Linked DNA regions of Homo sapiens: all the other regions are linked to region 2. Evidence: fine-mapped expression QTL. A gene starts in region 2. Each other region holds a variant in brackets. All regions are shown on one strand. Distances are from middle to middle.

Region 1 (8,181 bases), 780 kb before region 2:
TTTTTTTTTTTTTTTTTTTTTTTTTTGAGAAAAAGTCTCGCTCTGTTGCCCAGGCTGGAATGCAGTGGCTCAAACTTAGCTTACTGCAATGTCTGCCTCCTGGGTTCAACGGGTTCTCTTGCCTGAGCCTCCCGAGTAGTTTGGATTACAGGTGCACACCACCATGCCTGGCTAATTTTTCTATTTTTAGTAGAGATGGGGTTTTGCCATGTTAGTCAGGCTGGTCTCAAACTCCTGACCTCAAGTGATCTGCTTGCCTCGGCCTCCCGAAGTGCTGGGATTATAGGCGTGAGCCACCGCGCCCAGCCTGAGTTTCTTTTTAGAAACAGCAGTCTAAAAACAAGATAGTATAATCCTCTTTTTTGTACACAGAGTAAAGAGGACAAATAGGTGCAAGAATAAATGAAAGGCTGGAATCCCACTTCCCCCGCTGTCCCAGGGTATTGGATATTGACAGATAGGAGGAAGCAAACCACTCACAGAGCCAGGAATAAATGAATGCATTGGTATTGCCGGGAGAAGAGGCCGGCGCGGCTAAAATATGCTATGACCATAGCCAGGAGATACTGGTGGAGAGAAAGGAACACAGAAAGGGAGAGGTCACATCTTGGGAGAGGAAGATCGTGGAGACAGTGGAATGGGGGTCTAGGGAGGGTTTGCCCATCAGAGAAGGGACCTGAGTGTTGGGGTGACTGTGCTCATGTGGAAATTGCGGGGTGGTGGGGTATTTGAAGGTCGGATGCAAATCCGAGAAGCTGGAGGAAGGCATGTTGGTGATGCTCCCAGGATGGTGGGCTCTGATGAGATCTTTGAAGGAGTGTGTCTAGGTCGGCTGGTATCAGGAGGGTCTTTTGTGTGCCAGGCAGAGAACTGTCCCAAAGAACTGAGAGTAAAGGGGCTAGGAGCTTCAGGGCTGCGGCCTGACTGTGGCCCAGAGCTCAGATCCCAAATGACCCATAGGAGAGGCAGGGGCCACTCATTCACTCAGCAAGAGACCAGCAGAGTCCTGAGGGAGATGCTGACAAATAATAAAAAGACCAAGAATAGCCGGGAGTGGCAGCTCAAGCCTGTGATCCCAGAAGTTTGAGAGGCTGAGACAGGAGGATCAAGTGAGTCCAACAGTTCTAGAACAACCTGGGCAACATAGCAAGACTGTTTGTATAAAAATTATTCGAGCATGATGGCATGTGCCTGTACTCCCAACTGCTCAGGAGGCTGAGGCAGGATTGCAAGAGCCCAGGAATTAGAGGCTGTGGTGAGCTGTGATCATGCCACTGCACTCCATCCTGTGGAACACAGCTAGATACTGTCTCGAAAAAAAAAAAAAAACAGGTGGGCACCAAGACTCAAGACTGTGGGAGCCAGAGGGGCACAGTGGCTCACATCTGTAATCCCAGCATTTTGGGAGGCCAAGGCAAGCGGAACACCTGAGGTCAGGTGTTCAAGACCAGCCAGGTCAACATGGCAAAACCCCATCTCTACTAAAAACACAAAAATTAGCCAGCCATGGTGGTGCATGCCTGTAATCCCAGCTGCTTGGGAGGCTGAGGCAGGAGAATGCCTTGAACCCAGGAGGCTTCAGCTGCAGTGAGCCAAGGTTGAGACACTGCCCTCCAGCCTGGGCAACAGAGCGAGACTGTCTCACAAAAAGAAAAGAAGACTGTGGGAGCATCTGGTGGGAAGTGCTGGAGGGAGAGAAGAGAGGAACTGTGGGTTTAGAAGCTGCACCCTCCCCCTGGCAGTGCACTGAAGCAGGAACACGGTTCCGTGGAGAACAAACTTACCTTGTCTGACAACCTCAAATCTTTGTCCCAGGCGAGGAAGCTTTTAATGACAGGATCCTCTGTGATTAGAGAGTAGATGTCAGCTTGAAAAGCAGGACAGGGTTTCCGTGGGAGCAGCAGGGCAGCAAGGAGAAGTGTGTCTCCCAGGGGGAAGTCTCAGGATTGCTGCCACAGGTGAGGTGGATGGGAAAGAGGAGAATGACTTTCACTGGGCAAGGGAGAGAGGCTCCCGCTCTGAGACTCCCCTGAGAAGAGGCTGAAGGAGGCCCTGGGTGTGAGAATCTACAGGATGTAGAGCTGGCAAAAAGCCAGAATGCCCTCCCAGCAGACACAGAGGGACCACTGCAGAGTCATAAAGGAATTCCCATCATTTCCTCATGAGACAGTCACATCAGGGTGTGACTATGGCCTAGGTATCCCCCTCTATGGATGGAGACACTTAGGTTTAGAAAAGTCAGCAAGAGACATTAAGTTTCAGAGGGCACAGCTGAAGCCGCTTTCTTTGATTTTTTATTGTGATTTATTGATTTATTTATTTATTTATTGAGATGGAGTCTCGCTCTGTGGGCCGGGCTGGAATGCAGTGGCATGATCTCAGCTCACTGCAACCTCGGCCTCCCGAGTTCAAGCGATTCTCCTGTCTCAGTCCCCTGAGTAGCTGGGATTACAGGCGTGTGCTACCACGCCTGGCTAATTTTTGTATTTTTAGTAGAGATCAGATTTTACTATGTTGGTCAGGCTGGTCTCTAACTCCTGACCTGCCTCGGCCTCCCAAAGTGCTGGGATTACAGGTTTGAGCTACTGTGCTTTTTCTTTTGAGACAGAGTTTTGCTCTGTCACCCCGGCTGGAGTGCAGTGGTGCCATCATAGCTCACTGCAGCCTCAAAGTCCTGAGTTCAAGCAATCCTCTTAACTCAGCCTGCCAACATGCTGGGATCTCAGACGTGAGCCACCGCACTTGGCCCAAAACCAAGCTTTCTTATCCCAATTGCCAACCTAATCCTAATCTTCTATCATCTCCTAAGTGTCCCTCATGAGTGATCACTTCTGAGTCCTCCCGCATGGAGAGCTCACCCACTGGGGGCATATTTTTCCCATTGGAAAAGTGTGGTTATTGGAAGTTTCCTCTTTTTTAAAAGAACAGGATTGGAGGTGCTCTCTGGGGTGTCCTCCTACCAAGCAGCCTGTTGAAAGTCTCGTGGTGCTCAGGGAGCACGGGTGACACTCGCCATTGCTTCAGCTTCATCTTGAGCCCACACAGCGTCTCCGCCACCCAGGTCTCCTCAGGCTCAGGGGCGAGCTCCTTCTCTGGCTCCTCCTCCGATGACTCCTCAGATTCGTCCGACCACTCCCTCTTCCTTTTCCAGCAAAGGGACCCACACAGGGGGCTGGGATCTACCCCAGGGGCTGAGTAAAGAAACCAGGCCACTGTATAATGCTTCTGCAATTGAACTCCTTAGAGCCAGACCCAAAACGCCAAACCACTCTCCATCCTCCCCAGCCTCGCAGACTGCTGGCTTCTCCAAGCCATCTTTCCGTCTTTCTCCTTTGCTGAACCCCATGAGCCGCTCCTTCCCCTCCCCATTCTTCCATCTCTCTGTCCTCAGAACACTTCCTCATTTCCTTCCCTCATCCCTAGTTCTCTGAGTCTCTCCTTTTTTTTTTTTTTTTTTTTTGACACAGAGTCTTGCTTTGTCGCCCAGGCTGGAGTGTAGTAGTGCAATCTCGGCTCACTGCAATCTCCGTCTCCCAGGTTCCAGTGATTCTCCTGCCTCAGCCTCCCAAGTAGCTGGGATTACAGGTGCCCGTAATAACGCCCAGCTCATTTTTGTTCTTTTAGTAGGGATGGGGTTTCACCATGTTGGCCAGGCTGGTCTCAAACTCCTGGCCTCAAGTGATCCGCCTGCCTTGGCCTCCCGAAGTGCTGGGATTACAGGTGTGAGCCACTGCACCCTGCCTCAGTCCCTCCATTCTTCCCACACACCTCCTCAGGTGCTCCTTCCTGACTTCTGGGCCCGTCCTTGTTTTTTTTTTTTTGTTTTTTTT[G/GTTTTTTTTT]TTTTTTTTGCCACAGGGTCTCAGTCTCTCAGACTGGAGTGCAGTGGTGCTATCTCGGCTCAAAGCAACCTCTGCCTCCCGGGTTCTAGAGATTCTCCTGTCTCAGCCTCCCAAGTAGCTGGGAATACAGGCGTGCGCCACCACACCCGGCTAAGTTTTGTATTTTTAGTATTGACTAGGTTTCACTATATTGGTCAGGCTGGTCTCGAACAACTGACCTCAGGTGATCCACCCGCCTCAGCCTCCCAAAGTGCTGGGATTACAGACATGAGCTACTGCGCCCGGCCTTTGGTTTTCTTTTGAAACAGGGTTTTGTTCTGTCATGCAGGCTGGAGTGCAGTCGTGCAGTCATAGCTCACTGCAGCCTCAAAGTCCTGAGTTCAAGCAATTCTCTTGCCTCAGCCTCCCAGTGTGCTGGGATCTCAGGCATCAGCCACAGCACCTGTCCCGAAACCAAACTTTCTTTTTTTGTTGTTTTTTTGTTTTTTTGAGACAGAGTCTCTCTCTGTCACCCAGGCTGGAGTGTAGTGGCGCGATCTCAGCTCACTGCAAGCAACACCTCCGGGGTTCACGCCATTCTGCTGCCTCAGCCTCCCAAGTAGCTAGGACTACAGGCGCCCACCACCACGCCCAGCTAATTTTTTATATTTTTAGAAAGACTGTGTTTCACCATGTTAGCCAGGATGGTCTCGATCTCCTGACCTCGTAATCCGCCCGCCTCGGCCTCCGAAAGTGCTGGGATTACAGACGTGAGCCACAGCGCCCAGCCCAAAACCAAGCTTTCTTATCCCGAGAGCCAAACTTTATCAACTCCAGCCTAATCCTCTATCATCTCCTAAGCGTCCCTCATGAGTGATCACTTCTGAGTCCTCCCGCATGGAGAGCTCACCCACTGGGGGCATATTTTTCCCATTGGAAAAGTGTGGTTATTGAAAGTTTTCCTCGTTTTTAAAAGAACAGGATTGGAGGTGCTCTCTGGGGTGTCCTCCTACCAAGCAGCCTGTTGAAGTCCTCATGGTGCTCAGGGAGCACGAATGACACTAGCCGTTGCTTCAGCTTCAGCTTCATTTTGAGCCCACACAGCATCTCCGCCACCCAGGTCTCCTCAGGCTCAGGGGCGAGCTCCTTCTCTGGCGCCTCCTCCGATGACTCCTCAGATTGGTCCGACCACTCCCTCTTCCTTTTCCAGCAAAGGGACCTACATGGGAGGCTGGGATCTACCCCAGGGGCTGAGTAAAGAAACCAGGCCACCATGTAATGCTTCTGCAACTGATCACCTTAGACCCCGACCCCGACCCCAACCCCAAACCACTCTCCATCCTCCCCAGCCTTGCAGACTGTTGGCTTCTCCAAGCCATCTTTCTGGCTTTCTCCTCTGCTCAACCCCATGAGCCGCTCCTTCCCCTCCCCATTCTTCCGTATCTCTGTCCTCAGAACACTTCTTCATGTCCTTCCCTGGTCCCTGGCTCTCTGAGTCCCTCCTTTTTTGCTTGTTTTTTTGTTATTGGTTTTTTTTTTTTTTGTTTCGAGACAGAATCTTGCTTTGTCGCCCGGGCTGGAGTGTAGTGGTGCAATCTCAGTTCACTGCAACATCTGTCTCCCGGATTCCAGTTATTCTCATGCCTCAGCCTCTCAGGTAGCTGGGATTACAGGTATCTGCCATAATGCCCAGCTCAATTTTGTACTTTTAGTAGAGATGGGGTTTCACCATGTTGACCAGGCTGGTCTCAAACTCCTGGCCTCAAGTGATCTGCCCGCCTTGGCCTCCCAAAGTGCTGGGATTACAGGTGTGAGCCACTGCACCTGGCCTGAATTTCTCCATTCTTCCCATACACCCTCCTCAGGTTCTCCTTCCTGACCTCTGACCCTTCTTTTTTTTTTTTTTTTTTTTGAGACAGTGTCTCACTCTCTCACCCAGACTGGAGTGCGGTAGCACAATCTTGGCTCACTGCAACCTCTTCCTCCCAGGCTCAAGTGATTCTCCTGTCTCAGCCTCCCAAATAGCTGGGATTACAGGCGCGCACCACTACCACCTGGCTAATTTTTGTACTTTTAGTAGAGATGGGGTTTCACCATGTTGGCCAGGCTCGTCTTGAACTCCTGACCTCAGGTGATCCATCCGCCTCGGCCTCCCAAAGTGTTAGGGTTACAGGTGTGAGCCACTGCACCTGGCCCCCTTCCTTCACCTTAGTCAATCCTATCCCACCTCTTCTTCCTCCAGTCCCCTCACCTGATGGTCCCGACACTTCATCATCCACCACCTCCTGGAGGGGGTACCCTGAGGTGCTCAGCTGGGGGCTCTGCTCCTCATCCTGGGGGTGCGGTTGATGGCTGGTCATGATCTTTCCCAAAATCTATCCCAACCCACGGAACCTAGTCTCTGTTCTATCCAAGGCCTTCTTCTGGACTCTGCTAGGACCCAGAAGGTGTGTTATCAATTCTCGAGGCTGAGAGAAGTCAGGAGTGGAGAACAGCTCTGAGAAGATGCAGTTGTCCACTTGAGCTCCCAGATGCCCATGGAGTCCAGTCCTTCCAATCAGGAAGGTTGGAATCTCTGATGTCATTGGTCATTCCAACCTGGCAACCAGTTTGAAGAAAAACACATGTAACTGCCAGGCTGGTCTCTTGTCCTGGAGATCCTGGGTGAATGGTATCTCCTGCCACTGTCCCAACCTCAGACCACCATCCAAAAGCATCTTCAGGGTCTCCGCATCCATCTGTTCCCTGTCCCAGCAGAGGCTGTGTCTTCTCCACTCAAAGCCTGAAGCATTTTGGGGTCTCCTCTTCTCTGTACATGCCCATTTCAGAGTCCAGTCTGGTGGGAGAGGGAGGGTGGGAAAGAAAACTAGGGTAAGCAGAAACTATGAAACCTTACAAGTGTGAGATTATCATATACAAGAGATCCCAGGAACATTGACTTGATGAAAAAGTCACATCAGAGCACTCAATTTGGCAGAGCTTTTCTGCCGAATGTTTACTGACATTCACTGTCCGAGATTCTATACTGGGGGTACACGTGTCCTCTGCCGTAAGGCATCTTTGAGTCCAAGAGACATTTTGAGGCCTGAAAATCATAGGAAACTGCCCATGAGCTCACTCATATTTCCAATGGTGTCCCCAGTTTCAGGGAGTCCATGGATTACCTAAGGCCAGCCCCTCCAGTTCGGCTAAGAAACTCTAGTCTATATATTAAGTTTTGTATCATATGTATTGCTCTGAACTCAGAAATTTCCCTACCATTTATGGATTCTATGAATAAAATATCGCATGTACAAAAAGACTAAGTCGAAAAATCTCAGCTGTGCACAGTGGCTCATGTTTGTAATCCCAGCACTTTGGGTGGCCAAGGGAGGAAGATTGCCTGAGGCCAGCAGTTCAAGACCAGTGTAGGCAACATAGCATGACCCCATCTCTAAAAAAACAAAACCAAACCAAATTAGCCAGGTGTGGTGGCTGGCACCTTGTTCCAACTACTTGGGAGACTCATGCGACAGGAAGATCGCTTGAGCCCAGGACTTAGAAGCTGCAGTGAGCTATGATCTTGCCACCGCACTCCAGTCTAGGCAACACAGCAAGACGTTGTGTCAAAAAAAATTTTTTTGATAAAAAATAAAAGAGTTGGATGACATTCAGAGACCATCCAAAAAACCTGTCAGTTCCTGGCCGGGCTCAGTGGCTCACGCCTGTAATCCCAGCACTTTGGGAGGCCAAAGGAAGTGGATCACTTGAGGTCAGGAGTGTGAGACCAGCCTGGCCAACATGGTGAAACCCCGTCTCTACTAAAAATACAAAAAATTAGCCAGGCATGGTGGCGGGTGCCTGTAATCCCAGCTACTCAGGAGCGGGGACTGGAGAATCACTTGAACTCGGGGTGCGGAGGTTGCCGTGAGCCAAGATCGCACCATTGCTCTCCAGCCTGGGCAACAAGAGCAAAACTCCGTCTCAAAAAAATAAACAAAGAACCTGTGAGTGAGTTCCCATATGGCTTCCTAATGGGCTGTGGCTCTCCTAGGAGTCTCTTGCTCATGGGAAAGGCCCAAACTGAATGAGGAAGCAGATCCCATTGCTATGGAAGTCCCATTGGTAGGAAGCTCTGCTTTTCTGGAGTTCAAATTTCCATTCATGACGCTTTAAACCGCCAGAGCTGGGTGGGTCCTGACAAAACAGTTTGCTATCTCTCTCCTAGTTAACAGGCTTTCATATATTAGAAGATCAATGTTCTGACCCCATTAAAAGTTCTCTTTTGTGGAATGAAAAGCTCTGATTTAACCCATCTTCAAACCTGGTTTGCATATTCTTCTCTCTTCTGGCACACCACCATGCCTGATTAAGTTTTTTTTTTTTTTTTTTT
Region 2 (8,181 bases):
TTATACTACTTTAGTGACCAAACAGAACTCTTATATTAAACAAATGTTTAAAATACAAGTTTCTTCACTGTATGAAAAACATTACCTATGTTTCAAAGAAGCCAAGTCTTCTCTCAAAAAAAAAAAAAAAAAAAGAAAATTAAATTAAATTAAAAAAAAAAAAAAGAAGCCAGGTCTTCTACAAGCTGACATAAAGGACCCACCCAGGACGGGGGCAGTGGCTCACACTTGTAATCCCAGCACTTTGGGAGGCCAAGGTCGGCGGATCGCTTGAGGTCAGGAGTTTGTGACCAGCCTGCCCAACATGGTGAAACCTGTCTCTACTAAAAAAAGTACAAAAGTTAGCCAGGCGCCGTGGCACGTGCCTGTAATCCCAGCTACTCAGGAGGCTGAGGCACGAGAATCACTTGAACCCAGGAGGCAGAGGTTGCAGTGAGCCAAGATCACGCCACTGCACTCCAGCCCGGGTGACAGAGCAAAACACCGTCTCAGAAAAAAAATGGACCCACCCACAAAAGAAAATTTCAAAATGCATTTTAACCTTGACTCACTTGTCAAGGTTTATATTTTTTAAATTCTCAGATTATAAGAATTTAATAAATTAATGTTTTAATCTCACTTTTTTAATATATGGGGTCTCGACACATTGCTCAGAATTCCTAGGCTCAAGCATTCTTCCCAACTCAGCCTCCCAAGTAGTTGTAATCTCCCTTTTTTTTTTTTTACTTTTTTGAGACTGGGTCTCACTCTTTCACCCAGACTGGAGTGCAGTGGCATGATCACAACTCACTGCAGCCCCAACCACCTGGGGTCAGGCAATCCTCCCACCTCAGCCTCCCAGATAGCAGAGATTACAGGCACGTGCCACCACGCCCAGCTAATTTTTTGTATTTTTTGTAGAGATGGGGTTTTGCCATGTTGCCCAGGCTCGTCTTCAATTCCTGGGCTCAAGCAATCTGCCCATCTCAGCCTCCCAAAGTGCTGAGATTACAGGCATGAGCCACTGTGCCTTGCCTGTAATCTCACTTTTAAAGTCAAGTTTAATGAAGTTTTACTAATTTTAAATCATTAAGATTTTTCTAGTTTGATAGGTTTAACTATAAATTTCCAGGTCAGAATGCATGATACTTTACACAGACATAGCCATTTAAAGTTGCCTTAAGGTGAAATTTTAGAAACTCATCCTCTTTTTCCCAATGATTTATATGACGGGCTCGTGTAACTTATGTTATGGAAAAATTCCTTGGGTTTCATTTTCTCTCTTTTTTTTTTTGAGATGGAGTCTCACTCTGTCGCCAGGCTGGAGTGCAGTGGCACAATCTTGGCTCACTGCAACCTCTGCCTCCCGGGTTCAAGCAATTCTCCTGCCTCAGCCTCCCAAGTAGCTGGGACTACAGGCAAGCGCCACCACGCCCAGCTAATTTTTGTGTTTTTAGTAGACATGGGGTTTCACCACATTGGCCAGGCTGGTCTCAAACTTCTGACCTCAGGTGATCTGCCTGCCTGGGCCTCCCAGAGTGTTGGGATGACAGGCGTGAGCCCCTGTGCCTGGCCCAGGTCTTTTTTTTTTTTTTTTTTTTTGAGATGGAGTCTCGTTCTGTAGCCCACGCTGGAGTGCAGTGGTGCGATCTCAGCTCACTGCAACCTCCACCTCCCAGGTTCAAGTGATTCTCCTGCCTCAGCCTCCCGAGTAGCTGGGAATACAGGCACATGCCACCACACCTAGCTAATTTTTTGTATTTTTAGTAGAGACAGGGTTTCACCGTGTTAGCCAGGATGGTCTCAATCTCCTGACCTCATGATCTGCCCGCCTCGGCCTCCCAAAGTGCTGGGATTACAGGTGTGAGCCACCATGCCCAGCCACTAAAAGTTTTTCATGATGATGGTCTTACTTACTATGGTCAAAGTAACTGATACAACATGAAGGGACTTGCCAAATCAGATCAGATACCGTGTTCTAACTCTTTTAATCCTTTTTACTACTTTAACAGTAACCAATTTTTTTTTCTTACAAAGAAGGTAAGGTGAAGGAATTCAGCATTAGGAGAGATAATTTATTCCAGGATTTAGATAACAAATTTAACATAACGTGGATGTTACAATATATCCTATTACTTCCTATTTCTTTCAAGTTATTTCCTATTTCTCTCAAAATTATTTCTCTAAAATCTATGGAGAGAAACAGTTAATAATTTTTTAGTTGCTTGTTATACTTACTCTTAGAAAAACCTGATTTACAATGCTTTTGTTTGCATACATAAAAGTTGTTAGCAGCCCAATTCCAAGAGAAATTCCTGTTAGAAAATAAGTTCCAGTTAATTGAAAGAAAAAAAAATCAAAGAGGATTATATAAGCTAACAATGACACAAATTAAAAATAAACATATACAATAATAAAAGCTCACAGAAAATAAGTAACTGGATGCATTAAGTAGATTACCAATAATGAAAGAAAATTAACTGAATTTAGGAATGAAAACAAGTCAATGTTTTATTATGTCCTACCTGTTATATGCTGCATAACAAGTTTGACGCTCAGAATCAAAATATATGGAAGACTTTTTTGCAGCCACTTGAAGAGATAGCGGAATTCTGAGAAGGAGCTACTACCATGATCTCCAGATTCTGCGGCAGTATCATCAGTCAGCCTTGCTTCACTGTGGGAGTGACCCCGTAAGCGACTGTGTACACATCCATGGGCACAGCTATGGACACCTGACCTTATATTTCTGGAGCTTGCATTTTCTGCACATTCTTTAGGTATGGAGTTTATCTGGATATGAACATCTCCAGAATGAGGGCAAGAACCCTCTCCTGTCAATCTTGTGTGGACACACTGAGGGGTTGAGGCATCCTCACTGCTTCCAGTTCCTGGAGGACTGTGCAGTTGGCTACGATTGGCTTGCATGGCCCTTAAATACTTTTTCTCTGACCCAGATGTCTTTGCTTCAGGCCTCTGTCTCCTAAAAAATCAAATAAAAGATATTCTAAGTAAACAGGCAGTTAAATACCAGCAGTATATTCCTCACTGGGTATCCTTTATTCACTAAAGGAGTAGCAAATAATCACAACAGATGAATTTTCAGGTTATTTATCACTGGACTCCTCCCTTCTCCCTTAATGCCAAGGCTCTGCTGCCCTACACAAATGATCTTTTAGGGAACATTTGCACCAAAAAAAAAAAAGTTGAGCTGCAAATGCTTCCAGTTCTCTAATGGCAGAAGGCATCCGCAAAACAGTCATGAAGTATGGGTACCCAGCAGATGTTAATGAGCACCAGTCCTCACTGGGTACTCTGGTACATTTACTTTTCCCAAATGGTGCAGTTTCATCTCTGATGTAGATTCTACATCAAAGAAGTTTCATAAGGAAGAGTGAGCCAGTATTTTTTAATGGTTGGAAATGTTAGGAAAAAAAACAACATTAAATCTTAATGCCTTATTATCATCATAGGTAACTAATAATAAACACTGCACTTAGGTGACCTACAAATTAGATTTTCTGCTCAAGCAGCTTTCCCAAAGCTCATAAAGTTTCCAATAATTAATGGTGCCACCAATAATATTACCTCCCCGCGCAAAAGAATGTTACCTAAATACATTTAAAGCATAGATACTTTGGAGAGTCACCACGTAATTGCTAGGTAACTCTTTAGTCTGAATAAGCAGTTACACAGTCCGCCCAATAAAATGCCACCGTCGGTGGTGTGTGTATTACGGAGGGAGGGGTGTGAGGAAAGAGGACTCTAGCAGAGAAAGATCTCTCTAATAAATGATCCAGTGTGGACCTCCTAGAAACAGAAGAACAGAGTCGGAATCCCAGCTGACAAAACGCAGAGGCTATCCCACACTGCCGTGCTTTTCCCGTTTGTCTAGGAGGAGGCTAGAGTTAACGTCAGGGAATGTTCTGTGTCATTCTATTTCACTCCCAGGACTGAACAGTGGTGCAGTCACCGTGTCTGGCGGTTTGGGTTTCAGTGCTTTTCACTAAAGGCTTTCACCGAGGCCCCGACGCCACGGGTGTTATTTCGTCAAAACTGAAGAGCGACGTTGGACAGCAGGCTTTCAGTGTCTTTTCTATAAATAACATAGAACCCTCCCACTTTCCTTCATGCACAGACAAGAAAGAGGAGAAAAAAGGGAAGAAAATTCAACACAACTCTTCCGGAATCTCCGAGGGCAGAGTTCTCCACCCACGTCCGAGCCTCGAGTGCCTATTCTCCCCAGAGCCCCCTGCGCCGCGGCCCCTCGCCGCCTCCTCCTCTGCCCGCTTCCCCCAGGCCTAACCTCTCATGACCAGAAGCGGACGGAGGTGTCGGGAGCGACAGCAAGAACAGCGGCATACACCGCCTCCAGCCCTTCAGTCGGGGCCATCAACCGCAAACCCCGCAAGCTCTTCTCTCAGCCCGGCGGCAACGGCGGCGGCGCGCGCGCTCCCCGGACGTTCTCACGCGCGCGCGCGCGCCCTGCCCCGGCTCCACCTCCTAGCCCCGCCCCCGCACCGCGCCGAGTGGAGAGCTCACGGCTGCCGGGGTGTTTTGGCAGCGAGAACAAGCGAGCTGCGCCTGAGAACGGCCTTCAGGCCTGGCGCTAAATAATAAGTCGTTGTTATGTGTTATGTATTTATGTGGCATCCACCACACGCCTCCGAGATCCTGGGCGTTTTGAGGTTAAAAATGTTCAGGCTTGGAGAACCTACCCCTGGAGGAGTGTTAGGGTTTCCGGGCTCGGATGTCCGCGAGCTTGACGCCTGACCTAGTTGTGTCTGTCTGGGCGGTGACGTTTGGTCTGAGCTGACCTTTCCTCACAATCGTGAATTTGGGCTGTGAGGATCAGGCCTTGTCAGAACCCGAGATGAGAGGAGAGAGGTGCGGAGAGTCTGCGTGGGGTGGAAGTAGAAGTTAGAGTTGAAAAACCTGTCTTGCGTGGGGTATAGAGGACCCTACTGCCCTCAAAATAATTATGTTAATCTAAAACTGTTCTAAAATTAAAAGGTTATTAAGAAAACGAAGTTTAGGTCGGGCGCAGTGGCTCACACCTGTAATCCCAGTATTTTGGGAGGCCGAGGCGGGCGGGTCACTTGAGCTCAGGAGGTAGAGACCAGCCTGGCCAACATGGTGAAACCCGTCTCTATTAAAACTACAAAAATTAGCCGGGGGCGTTGGCTCACACTTGTAATCCCCGCTACAGATACTCGGGAAGCTGAGGCATACGAGAATCACTTGAACCCGGGAGGTGGAGTTTGTAGTGAGCCAAGATCGTGCCACTGCACTCCAGCCTGGGCAACAGAGTGAGTGAGACTCGGTCTCAAAAAATAAATAAATAAAATAAATTCTGTTAATCTAAAACTGTTCTAAAATTAAAAGGTCATTAAGAAAACGAAGCTGAGGAGGGGAGTGGTAGCTCACACCTGTAATCCCAGCACTTTGGGAGGCCAAGGCGGGTGGATCACAAGGTCAAGAGATCGTGGCCACATCCTGGCCAATATGGTGAAACCCCGTCTCTACTAAAAATACAAAAATTAGCCGGGTGTGGTGGTGCGTGCCTGTAATCTCAGCTACTCGGGAAGCTGAGGCAGGAGAATCGCTTGAACCCGGGAGGCGGAGGTTGCAGTGAGCCGGGATTAGCCACTGCACTCCAGCCTGGCAACAGAGCGACACTCCGTCTAAAAAAAAAAAGGTTTAGGCCTGGCGTGGTGGCTCACCCCTGTAATCCCAGCGCTTTGGAAGGCCGAGGCGGGAGGATCACTTGAGGTCAGGAGTTTGAGACCAGCCTGGCCAACATGGCGAAACCCTGTCTCTACTAAAAATACAAAAATCACCCGGGCTTGGTGGCGGGCGCCTGTAATCCCAGCTACTCGGGAGGCTGAGGCAGGAGAATCCCTTGAACCCAGGTGGCGGAGGTTGCAGTGAGCTGAAATCGTGCCACTGCACTCCAGCCTGGGCGGCAGAAGGAGACCCCCACCTCAAAAAAAAACACATTGGCTTTCTTTTTTTGTTGGGGGTGGGGGTAGGGGTGGTCGGCGGTGGTAGAAGGCATACTTAAGTCTCTCTGTGCTTACTAATTTAAATCTTTCTGACAGATTTCTGGTTCAGTAAGGGTGAGAGCCAGGCTCCAGACTATAGTGAATTTTCCGAGGAGATATGTGTAAGTATTCTAACATTTCAACTATGTCGTGGATATTTTTAAACTTCAAAATGTGTGAACATTTAGGAAACAGGAAAAAAAACAGAATATAACATAATTCAGCCACAGCCACAATGCAGCACCAATATGTATTAGTACACTGATAATTTTAGTACATTTGGTACATTTGTAAATTTAGAATACCAAATGTAGTGTTTAAATTCTCATCTTGGCCAGATACTACGGTTCATTCCTATAATCCTAGCACTTTGGGAGGCTGAGGTGAAAAGGTCGCTTGAGCCCAAGAGATCGAGAGCAGACTGGACAACATAGAGAGACCCTGTCTCTAGAAAAAAATGTTAAAATTAGCTGGGCACTGTGGCAAGGGCCTGTAGTCCCAGCTACTCAGGAGGCTGAGGTGGGAGAATCCCTTGAGCCAGGGAGATTAAGGCTGCAATGAGCCGTTATTGCTCCAGTCTGGGAACAGAGTGAGACCCTGTCTCAAAAAAAAAAAAAAAAAAATTCTCCTTTTGACATACTCATAACACTGCAGGTATATTAGTCCATATTTAAAGTTTATTAGTGCACTTGGAGCTGCATTTCACCCAAGTAACTTGACTGAAAAGTGACATATTTGAAGAAAGAAAGGACTGAATTGATGAGAAGATTTGACTTGGTGACAGGCTATTATCTGATAAATTTTCTTTCCACTGGCATCTGGACTGTTGGAAATAGACATTTTAATTTTAATTGGTTAATTCAAAAAGCATTTTCCAAGTACTTACTGAGTGTTAAGAATAATACTAGATGTTGGAGAGAGAGACATAATAAAGAGTCTCGGGCCAGGCATGATGGCTCACACCTGTAATCTCAGCACTTTGGGAGGCCACAGCAGGTAGATCACTTGAGGTCAGCAGTTCAAGACCAACCTGGCCAACATGGTGAAACTCCATTTCTGCTAAAAACATAAAAATTAGGGCCAAGCACAATGGCTCACGCCTGTAATCCCAGCACTTTGGGAGGGTGAGGCAGGCGGATCACCTGAGGTCAGGAGTTCAAGACCAGGCTGGCCAACATGGTGGAACCCCGTCTCTACTAAAAATACAAAAATTATCGAGGTATGGTGGCACGCGCCTGTAATGCAGTTACTCAGGAGGCTGAGGCAGGAGAATTGCTTCAACCTGAGGCAGAGGTTGCAGTGAGCCAATATCATGCCACTGCACTCCATCCTGGGCAACAGAGCAAGACTCCATCTCAGAAAAAAAAGAAAAAGAAAAGTTGCCATCTCATGGTGATGGAAATGTTTAGACCTGCAAACAAATAATTACAGTATTTTGGAGAAAACACTATAATTGAAGGTTCTGTGAGATGCAATGGAAGCAAAAGGTAGAAGCATTTAACTTTGTCAGGGAAGAAATCTTTTATTAAATTTGTGATATTTAAGATGAAATCTTTTTTTTTCTTTCTTCTTTTGATAGAGTTTTGCTCTGTTGCCCAGGGTGGAGTACAGTGGCGCAATCTTGGCTCACTGCAACCTCTGCCTCCTGGGTTCAAGTGATTCTAGTGCCTCAGCCTCCTGGATGAAATCTTAAGAATAAGTTGATATTTACCAGGACAGAAGCAGTAACAGGGCAATGCAGATAGAAACATTATATGGAAAATGGTGGTATTGAAATACCATGGTCTTTTAAAGAGTGTTTTTCGTATTTGGAAGAGTAGAGTGGATAGAGTAGTAAGAGATAAGTCAGGTAAGTATGAGCTAGAAAATGAGTTTGTGGGCCTCACTTAGTTTATTCTAATGGCCAAAAGGAAGCTATTGAGTTTTAAGCAACAGAATTGTGTGACTGGATTTGTGTTTTTCAGAAAATTCATATGCTGATAGTAGCAGTGCAAGCTCCATTAGGAGACTATTATAAGTAGTTCAGGAACAAGATGAGGTCTTGAACTTGTCAGTGAAGTGGGATTCAAGAAGAAGAATGAGATTGGAGAGGTTATGAAATAGAATCAGTAGGGTTAAGTGTCCTAGATTGTTGCAGTTAAGCTCGTCACCCCCTCTA
Region 3 (8,181 bases), 44 kb before region 2:
AAAGTGCTGGGATTACAGGCATGAGCCACCATGCCCAGCCAACTGCTATCTTTTTAATTCAGCAGTTTTCAATTTTTTTTTTTAGACGGAGCCTCACTCTGTTGCCCAGGCTGGAGTGCAGTGGCGTGATCTCAGCTCACTGCAACCTCCACCTCCCAGGTTAAAGCGATTCCTCTGCTTCAGCTTCCTGAGTGTCTGGGATTACAGGCGCCCACCACCACACCCGGCTAATTTTTGTATTTTTAGTAGAGATGCGGTTTCGCCATATTGGCATGCTGGTGTCGAACTCCTGACCTCGGGGGATCGGCCCGCCTTGACCTCCCAAAGTGTTGGGATTACAGGCGTGAGCCACCGAGCCTGGCAGTATTAACTTTCTTTTATGCGAGTTAAGGATTTGTTTCTTGTTTACTTCACCCTCCTTTATCCTCATCCTCTCATTTTGTTTTGCTTTCTTTGAATCTACTATTGTCCTCTGATGTCTTCCAACAACTTTGTAAAACACCTTTCAGTCTAATGTTCTTTGATCAGGCTTATAAGATAATCTATCAGTTCCATTTATTTCCCAGAGGCATATCTTAGGAACTTTCTATCCACCTGTTCCCATCTGGAGTGGTAGCTCTTTAGTCACAACTGTTATGACTGGACTCTTTCTTCACCACAACCCTGGAATCCTCTTGGCTCCTTCAGTGTTGGATCTTTTGTTTCCTGGATCCCATATCTTCATTTTTTCCCTTTTTCTTAGTTTATGTCCTTGTTTTGGTGACACTATACTAGTGGCTCCCTCAGACAAGGTATATAAAGATACATTTATAATAAAAATATATCCATATTGCATATTTGAGAATTTCTTTACATTTTTATTTACTTGATTGTTTATGTTATTGGAGTTGAAAATTATTTTCACTTAGAATTTTGCTCAGTTTTCTTCTATTCTTGAGAGTTTCTGTTGAAGTGCTTTGGCATTCTGATTCCCAGTCGTTTACACATGGCCTATTTTTTCTGTGGAAATATTTAAGATTTTCTCTTTATTTCTGATCTAAGTTTTTATAGTGATGTGTGTTGCTTTGACTTTGATTATTATTTTTATTTAGTTAGTTTTTGAGATAGGGTCTCGCCCTGTCACCTAGACAGGAGTGCGGTGACACAATTATAGCTCAGTGCAACCTCAAATTCCTGGGCTCAAGCTATCCTCCCACCTCAGTCTCCTGAGTAGCTGGGACCACAGACACGCACCACCAGGCCTGGCTAATAAAAAAAAATGTAGAGATGGGCACTCACCATGTTGCCCAGGCTGGTGTTGAACTCCTGGGCTCAAGTGATCCACCCGCCTCGGCCACCCAAAGTGCTGGGATTGGATTACAGGTATGGCCCACTGCGCCCGGCCTATTTAATTAAATTAATTAATTTATTTATTTTTAAGAGACAGGGTCTCACTCTGTTTCCCAGGCTGGAGTGTGGTGGTGTGATCATACTTCACTGTAACCTGTAACTCCTGGGCTCAAGCGATCCTCCTGCCACAACTTCTGAGTAGCTAGGACTGCAGATGCATGCCACCACGCCCAGTTCATTTTTAAAATGTTTCGTAGAGACAAGGTCTTCCTGTGTTTCCCCGGCTGGCCTGGAACTCCTGGCCTCAAGCAGTTGTTCTGTTTTGGCTCCCAAAGTGTTGGGATTACAGGCATGTGCCACTGTGCCCAGCCTATTTTTATTCTTTTAATCTTAAAGCTTTAGTCTTTCAGTTCTAGGAAATTTTCTTATGTGATTTATTTGGTAATTTCCTTCCCACTGTTTTCTCTTCTTGGAATTGCAATTAGTTGGATGTTGGATCTCCTGGACCGATCATCTAATTTTTCTTATCTTTTCCACGTTTCCATTTCTTTGTCTTGTTTACTTTCTTCTACTCAATTTTTTTTTGAGATGGAGTTTTGCTCTTGTTGCCCAGGCTGGAGTGCAATGGCGCAATCTTGGCTCACCGCAACCTCCGCCTCCTGGGTTCAAGCGATTCCCCTGCCTCAGCCTCCCGAGTAGCTGGGATTACAGGCATGTGCCACCATGCCCGGCTAATTTTGTATTTTTAGAAGAGACAGGGTTCCTCCATGTTGGTCAGGCTGGTTTCGAACTCCTGACTTAGGTGATCCGCCCGCCTTGGCCTCCTGAAGTGCTGGGATTACAGGCGTAAGCCACTGTGCCCAGCCATTTGACTAAATTTTTTTTTAAAGCTGTTGTATTTGTGATTCTCCAGAATTCTTTCTGTTGTTTTTGTTTTATAGCAACCTGTTTAATGAGTATAATATCTTCTCTTACCCCTCTGAGAGTTTTATTTTTTTTTAATGTTTATTATTATTTTTTTGAGACAAGAGTCTCACTCTGTCGTGCAGGTTTGAGTGCAGTGGTGCGATCTTGGCTCACTGCAACCCCTGCCTCCTGCGTTCAAGCGATTCTCCTGCCTCAGCCTCCTGAGTAGCTGGGATTACAGGTGCCCGCTACCACACCTGGCTAATTTTTGTATTTTTAGCAGATATCGGGTTTCATCATGTTGGCCAGACTGGTCTTGAACTCCTGACCTCAGGCAAAACGTCCACCTCGGCATCCCAAAGTGCTGGGATTACAGGTGTGAGCCACCACGCCCAGCCTCTCTGAGAGTTTAATTATAATTATTTGAAATGTTCTTTTGTTTTACGCATGTTCTTTTTTGACTTTCTGTTTTCTTTGACTTTGATTTAGTCAGTTTTAGTCACTTTGTTCCATGTTAGAGGCCTTCTTTAGATGTCTGGTGTCATTCACTGATTATTCTTTTTTTTTTTTTTTTTTTTGAGTTGGAGTCTTGCTCTGTCGTCTAGGCTGGAGTGCAGTGGCACAGTCTCGGCTCACTGCAATTTCCACCTCCTGGGTTCAAGCGATTCTTGTGCCTCAGCCACCCAAGTAGCTGGGATAACAGGCATGTGCCACCCTGCCTGGCTAATTTTTGCATTTTTAGTAGTGACAGGGTTTCGCCATGTTGTCAGCCTGATCTCGAACTCCTGACCTCAAGTGATCTGTCCACCTAGGCCTCAATAACCCATCCACTGCGCCTGGCCTGATTATTCATATTTAAGAGTAGAACTCTGAAAAGCTGATCAGAAGTTCTGTGTGTGTAAGCTTCTCTGCAGGGTAGTCAAGTGGTTAGCTGGCACTTGATCAACAACTTCAAATAATAGTGTCTGTAGGGCTGGGTGTGGTGGCTCACGCCTGTAATCCCAGCACTTTCGGAGGCTGAGGCAGGTTGATCACCTGAGGTCAGGAGTTCAAAACCAGCCTGGCCAGCTGGTTTGGGGGCGCTGAGGCAGGAGAATCGCTTGAGCCTGGGAGGTGGAGGTTGCAGTGAGCCAAGATTGCACCATTGTGCTCTAGCTTGGACAACAAGAGCGAGACTCCATCTCAAATAAATAAATAAGTAAATATTGTCTGTAGATCTTTTTTTTTCTGGGGAGGATCAGTTGGTGCTAAGAAAGTTCTGCCATTCATTTGCCTGGAAAAAGCATTCTGGAGCTGAGTGAGAGAAGATGGAGATCTTACCTCTCAACACGCGGACTTTCACTAAACTCGAGTTTTTACATTAGTACTTTACTCTGTGGATCTAATCTTTCACTTTTTTTTTTTGTCCCGGGGAATTTAACTCTCCTAGGGTTAGTTCTTCGACTTAGTATGGAGATGGGAGCCTTTTTGGTCTGTCTGTTCCTTACACAGACTTGTAGATGATCTCCCTGTTTTTAGCACTCCACCTTCTGCCTTCTACAGTCTTCAGTTCCTTTAATTTTTTCCCTTCCTTCTAATTTTTCCTCTAATGTTTGAACCTTGCTGGGGTTCTATAGATAGATTCAACTTCTTTTGTGTATTCCCCTTTGCAGGCACTTAGGTTTGATCTTACCCCACTCTGCTACATCATGGACCATTGCTTTATCCCCACTCTGTCTTTTCAGGTGTGGGATTCCACATGTCTTCTAGTTTTACTGATGGATTATGTGTGTGTTTGTTTTCTTATTCTTGTTTGGGATTGATTACTGAAAAGATTCCACTGTCTTTTTTTTTTTTCCTGGGTTCAAGTGATTCTTCTGCCTCAACCTCCTGAGTAGCTGGGATTACAGGTGCC[C/T]GCCACCACACCCAGCTAATTTTTGTATTTTTAGTAGAGACAGGGCTTTGCCATGTTGGCCAGGCTGGTCTCGAACTCCTGACCGCAGGTGATCCACCCTTCTTGGCCTCCCAAAGTGCTAGGATTACAGGCATGAGTCACTGCGCCCGGCCTCCACTGTCTTAAAACAAAAGTTCCAGTGGAGAACTACTTTAAAGACAATCAAAGTGACTTTTTAAAAAAATTATAAGACTTGTAAAACTTTGGTCCTTCTTGCTGATTTTTATTTAAGCAGTATAAATGACTCCTCAGTTTGAAAGCTGAGGAACAAATACTGTGACCACAATTTTATTGGTAATTGTCTTTAAAAAGCCATCTAGCTATTCTTCACATCAGTTTCTTCTTCAGTGGGTTGACATTGATATCAGCTATTTGACTTTCCTGTTGGAATTGTTTTAGATTAATGATTTTTTAATCTGTAAAACATGTTAGGTATAGAATTGAAGGCAGCATAATAGTGCTTGTCCCAGAAATGTGAAAAGAAGTACTGGTCAAGATTTCTTCTTTTATTTGAAACAGAGTCTCACTACATCACCCAGGCTGGAGTGCAGTGGAGCGTTCTCAGCTCACTGCAACCTTTGCCTCTTGGGTTCCAGTGATTCTAGGGCCTCAGCCTCCCAAATAGCTGGGACTACAGGTGTGTACCACCACGCCTGGCTAATTTTTGTACTTTTGGTAGAGACAGGGTTTCACCATGTTGGCCAGGCTGGTCTCAAACTCCTGACCTCAAGTGACCGCCCACCTCAGCCCCCTAAAGTGCTGGAATTATGGGCGTGAGCCACTGCGCCCAGCCTCTGGTCAAGATTCTTAACTGATTCATTCCTTGTGATGTGTTATTTATGTCGGATAATCAGGCCTGACCATATTAGGCATAATTAGATCTTGGGTGAAGTATGTTTTTGGCACAGGTATCTAGTGAAAAAAAGAGTGCTTGTTTTTTTTCCCCACTCATGGTGGGTGGGGTGGTATATTGGGAAATCCATAGACTTAATTACTGCTAAGTGTCAGGCCTCATTCTGGGGCCCAGGGATCCAGGACCTAAGCTGTTTGCCTCTGCTTTTGCTTGGTTGCCATTGTTTCCCATTCTTGGGGTTCTTTTCTTAATCCTGGCTAGAGGATCTGATACTGTCTCCTTCCTTGTCCTTGAAAGCAAGCTCATAGCAAAAATAATGAAAATAAAGATGTCATTAGGGTTAAGTTCAGGGCTTTCATTTCTAAATCCCCAAGTAAGATGACTATAGGCTCCCTTTGAGTTCCTTCCTTCTGATTTTAATTATCCTGGAGGCAGAGTACTAACCCCTCTGACCTGAGTGTGTGGTAAGTGTATACCTCTTCCCCCAGACTTTAAGATGAAATCAGAGTAGAACCAGGTATCCCCTTAAGTGAGTTGTTTCAATCTGGACATTCTGTCTGGATTTATTAGTTCTCCTGGGACTGTTTACTTCTTATAGGAATGGTACCATTCAGGTATTTGCTTAGAGTGGAATAGTGAGGAAAAGACTATCAACAGCCATCACCCGACCCTACCAGTTGCAGCAAAAATATACCATGGAAGCAAAATACTATTGCCTACGGCATTAGTTCACCTCCCACTGTACATTTTAGAACCTTTGGCCAAAGGTGTTCTCCACCTCTGAAATATTGCGGTTTCATAGAACAATAACTTTCTCACTTTTGACTTACTTGATTCCTACAATGCCTGTTTTTTGGCCCTAAGCCCTTTAGTTAATAAATTTTAGTTAATAAATTTTCCTCATGTACAATTTGAGAGTTAACTGCAGATTTCATAGCACTTCACCCCTAATTTCATCTATACATCTCCTAAGAATAAGGGCATTTTTTTTTTTTTTTTTTGAGAAGCAGTCTCACTCTGTTGCCCAGGCTGGAGTGCAGTGGTGCAATTTTGGCTCACTGCAACCTCCACCTCCTGGGTTCAAGCGATTCTCCTGCCTCAGCCCCACAAGTAGCTGGGATTACAGGTGCCTCCTACCACGCCTGCCTAATTTTTGTAATTGTAGTAGAGACGAGGTTTCACCATGTTGGCCAGGCTGGTCTCAAACTCCTGACCTCAGGTGAGCCGCTCTCCTCGGCCTCCCAAAGTGTTGAGATTACAGACTTGAGCCTCCGTTCCCGGCCTCTTTTTCCTTTTGTAGTTAACAAGTGATCTGTGGAATGATAGAAACGGTGTGAATATTCTGTCCTATAATAATCTTTACTTAATGGTTTTATCTGGATTGTTTCTTGCCCAAATATTACTGTACTGTAGTGATTATAAAATGGAGACTTTTCTATTTTTTCTGTATTTTTTCTATATTGTCATTAGTCTGTAAAGATTTTTTTATACTCCTTTTTTTTTTTTTTTTTTTTTTTTTGAGATGAAGTCAGGCTGGAGTGCAGTGGTGTGATCTCAGCTCACTGCAGCTTCTGCCTCCCGGGTTCAAACTATCCTCCTGCCTCAGCCTCCAGAGTAGCTGAGACTACAGGCGTGCGCCATCGCGCCCAGCTAATTTTTTGTATTTTTAGTAGAGATGGGGTTTCACCATGTTGGCCAGGATGGTCTCGATCTCTTGACCCCGTGATCTAGCCACCTTGGCCTCCCAAAGTGCCAGGATTACAGACGTGAGCCACTGCGCCTGGCCCTATACTCTCTTTTAAAAAAATTTGTTTGTTTTTTTTTTTTGAGATGGAGGTTCACTCTGGTGCCCAGGCTGGAGTGCAACGATGTGGTCTTGGCTCACTGCAACCTCCATCTCCCAGGTTCGAGCAATTCTCCTGCCTCAGCCTCCTGAGTCGCTGGGATAGGTGCGTGCCACCATACCCAGCTGATTTTTGTATTTTTAGTAGAGATGGGGTTTCACTATGTTGGCCAGGCTGGTCTTGAACTCCTGACCTCATGATCTGCCCGCCTCAGCCTCCCAAAGTGCTGGGATGACAGGCATGAGCCACCGCACCTGGTCTTTTTTTTTTTTTGTGAGACAGGTTCTTCCTCTGTTGCCCAGGCTTGAGTGCAGTGGCATGATCATGGCTCACCACACCCTTGGACACCAGGCTGCCTCAGCTCACTGCAACCTCTGCCTCCCAGGTTCCAGTCATTCTCGTGCCTCAGCCTCTGGAGTAACGGGAGTATAGGTGTGTACTATCACACGTGGCTAATTCTTGTATTTTTAGTAGAGATGAGGTTTCTCCATGTGGGGCAGGCTGGTCTCAAACTCCTGGCCAACATGGTGATCCGCCTGCCTCGGTTTCCCAAAGTGCTTCATATTGTTAGCCCTAATTCTAGTCCAATTCCATAGCGTTCTTTTTTATTTTTATTTTTTTATTTTTGAGATGGAGTCTCGCTTTGTCCCCCAGGCTGGAATGCAGTGGTGTGATCTCGGCTCACTGCAGCCTCCACCTCCTGCGTTCAAGCAGTTTTCTGCCTCCGCCTCCTGAGTAGCTGGGATTACAGGTGCCTGCCACCACGCCCGGCTAATTTTTGTATTTTTAGTAGAGACGGGGTTTCATCATCTTGGCCAGGCTGGTCTTGAACTCCTGACCTTGTGATCTACCTGCCTCGGCCTCCCAAAGTGCTGGAATTACAGGTGTTAGCCACCGTGCCCGACCACATTCTTCTTTCAGTTCATATTTGGATATCCTTTTTTTCTACAGTGAGAAGAACTCTGGTAACAACATAAACGCACTCATTTGTTCAGTTGTACAATATGTGCATAATGAAAATTGTAATACCAATAGTATTTCCAGCTACAAACCTACTAAGTTTGATTTAATATTTCTTTGCAATTTTTTGTGTGCTTACATATAGGCCACTAAGGGTGTGCAGTCTAAAATTACTTAAATATCTTTTTCTCGCTGGGTGCAGTGGCTCACACCTGTAATCCCAGCACTTTGGGAGGCCAAGGCGGGCGGATCATGAGCTCAGTTCGAAACCAGCCTGGCCAGCATGGTGAAACCCCATCTCTACTAAAAATACAAAAATTAGCCAGGTGTGGTGGCAGGTGCCTGTAGTCCCAGCT

Alleles and levels. Alleles are on the strand shown, and positions count from the first base shown. SD is a standard deviation of normalised expression in the study named. Not every link is listed here.
For the expression in monocytes after LPS of the gene that starts at base 4,418 in region 2, GTTTTTTTTT is the low allele of the variant in region 1 and G is the other (moderate effect, 0.54 SD a copy in Quach 2016).

Evidence for each region. PIP is the estimated chance that this variant, and not a neighbour inherited with it, causes the effect.
Region 1: its variant is the best candidate, but not a certain one, in a credible set for the expression of RNFT1 in monocytes after LPS (Quach 2016, PIP 0.69).
Region 3: its variant is the best candidate, but not a certain one, in a credible set for the expression of RNFT1 in whole blood (INTERVAL, PIP 0.88).

What each region holds. Positions count from the first base shown.
Region 1 is chr17:59,176,689-59,184,869 of GRCh38, forward strand. The region is part of intron 2 of PRR11 (proline rich 11); the gene reads left to right. It also overlaps the pseudogene SPDYE22P. Among named protein-coding and RNA genes, the nearest start is that of PRR11, 25 kb to the left of the region's middle. RefSeq lists an enhancer at 5,690-6,191. The variant G/GTTTTTTTTT (reference allele first, on the strand shown) is at 3,831.
Region 2 is chr17:59,960,323-59,968,503 of GRCh38, forward strand. It overlaps RNFT1 (ring finger protein, transmembrane 1), which reads right to left and starts at 4,418. Exons shown (of 9, transcript NM_016125.4): 1 at 4,286-4,418; 2 at 2,505-2,962; 3 at 2,218-2,294. The coding sequence starts at 4,341. It overlaps RNFT1-DT (RNFT1 divergent transcript), which reads left to right and starts at 4,774. Exons shown (of 4, transcript NR_110815.1): 1 at 4,774-4,866; 2 at 6,081-6,145. It also overlaps the pseudogene TBC1D3P1-DHX40P1. RefSeq lists a silencer at 4,359-4,488 and an enhancer at 4,519-4,788.
Region 3 is chr17:59,916,037-59,924,217 of GRCh38, forward strand. All of the region lies in intron 4 of RPS6KB1 (ribosomal protein S6 kinase B1), which reads left to right. Among named protein-coding and RNA genes, the nearest start is that of RPS6KB1, 27 kb to the left of the region's middle. The variant C/T (reference allele first, on the strand shown) is at 4,130.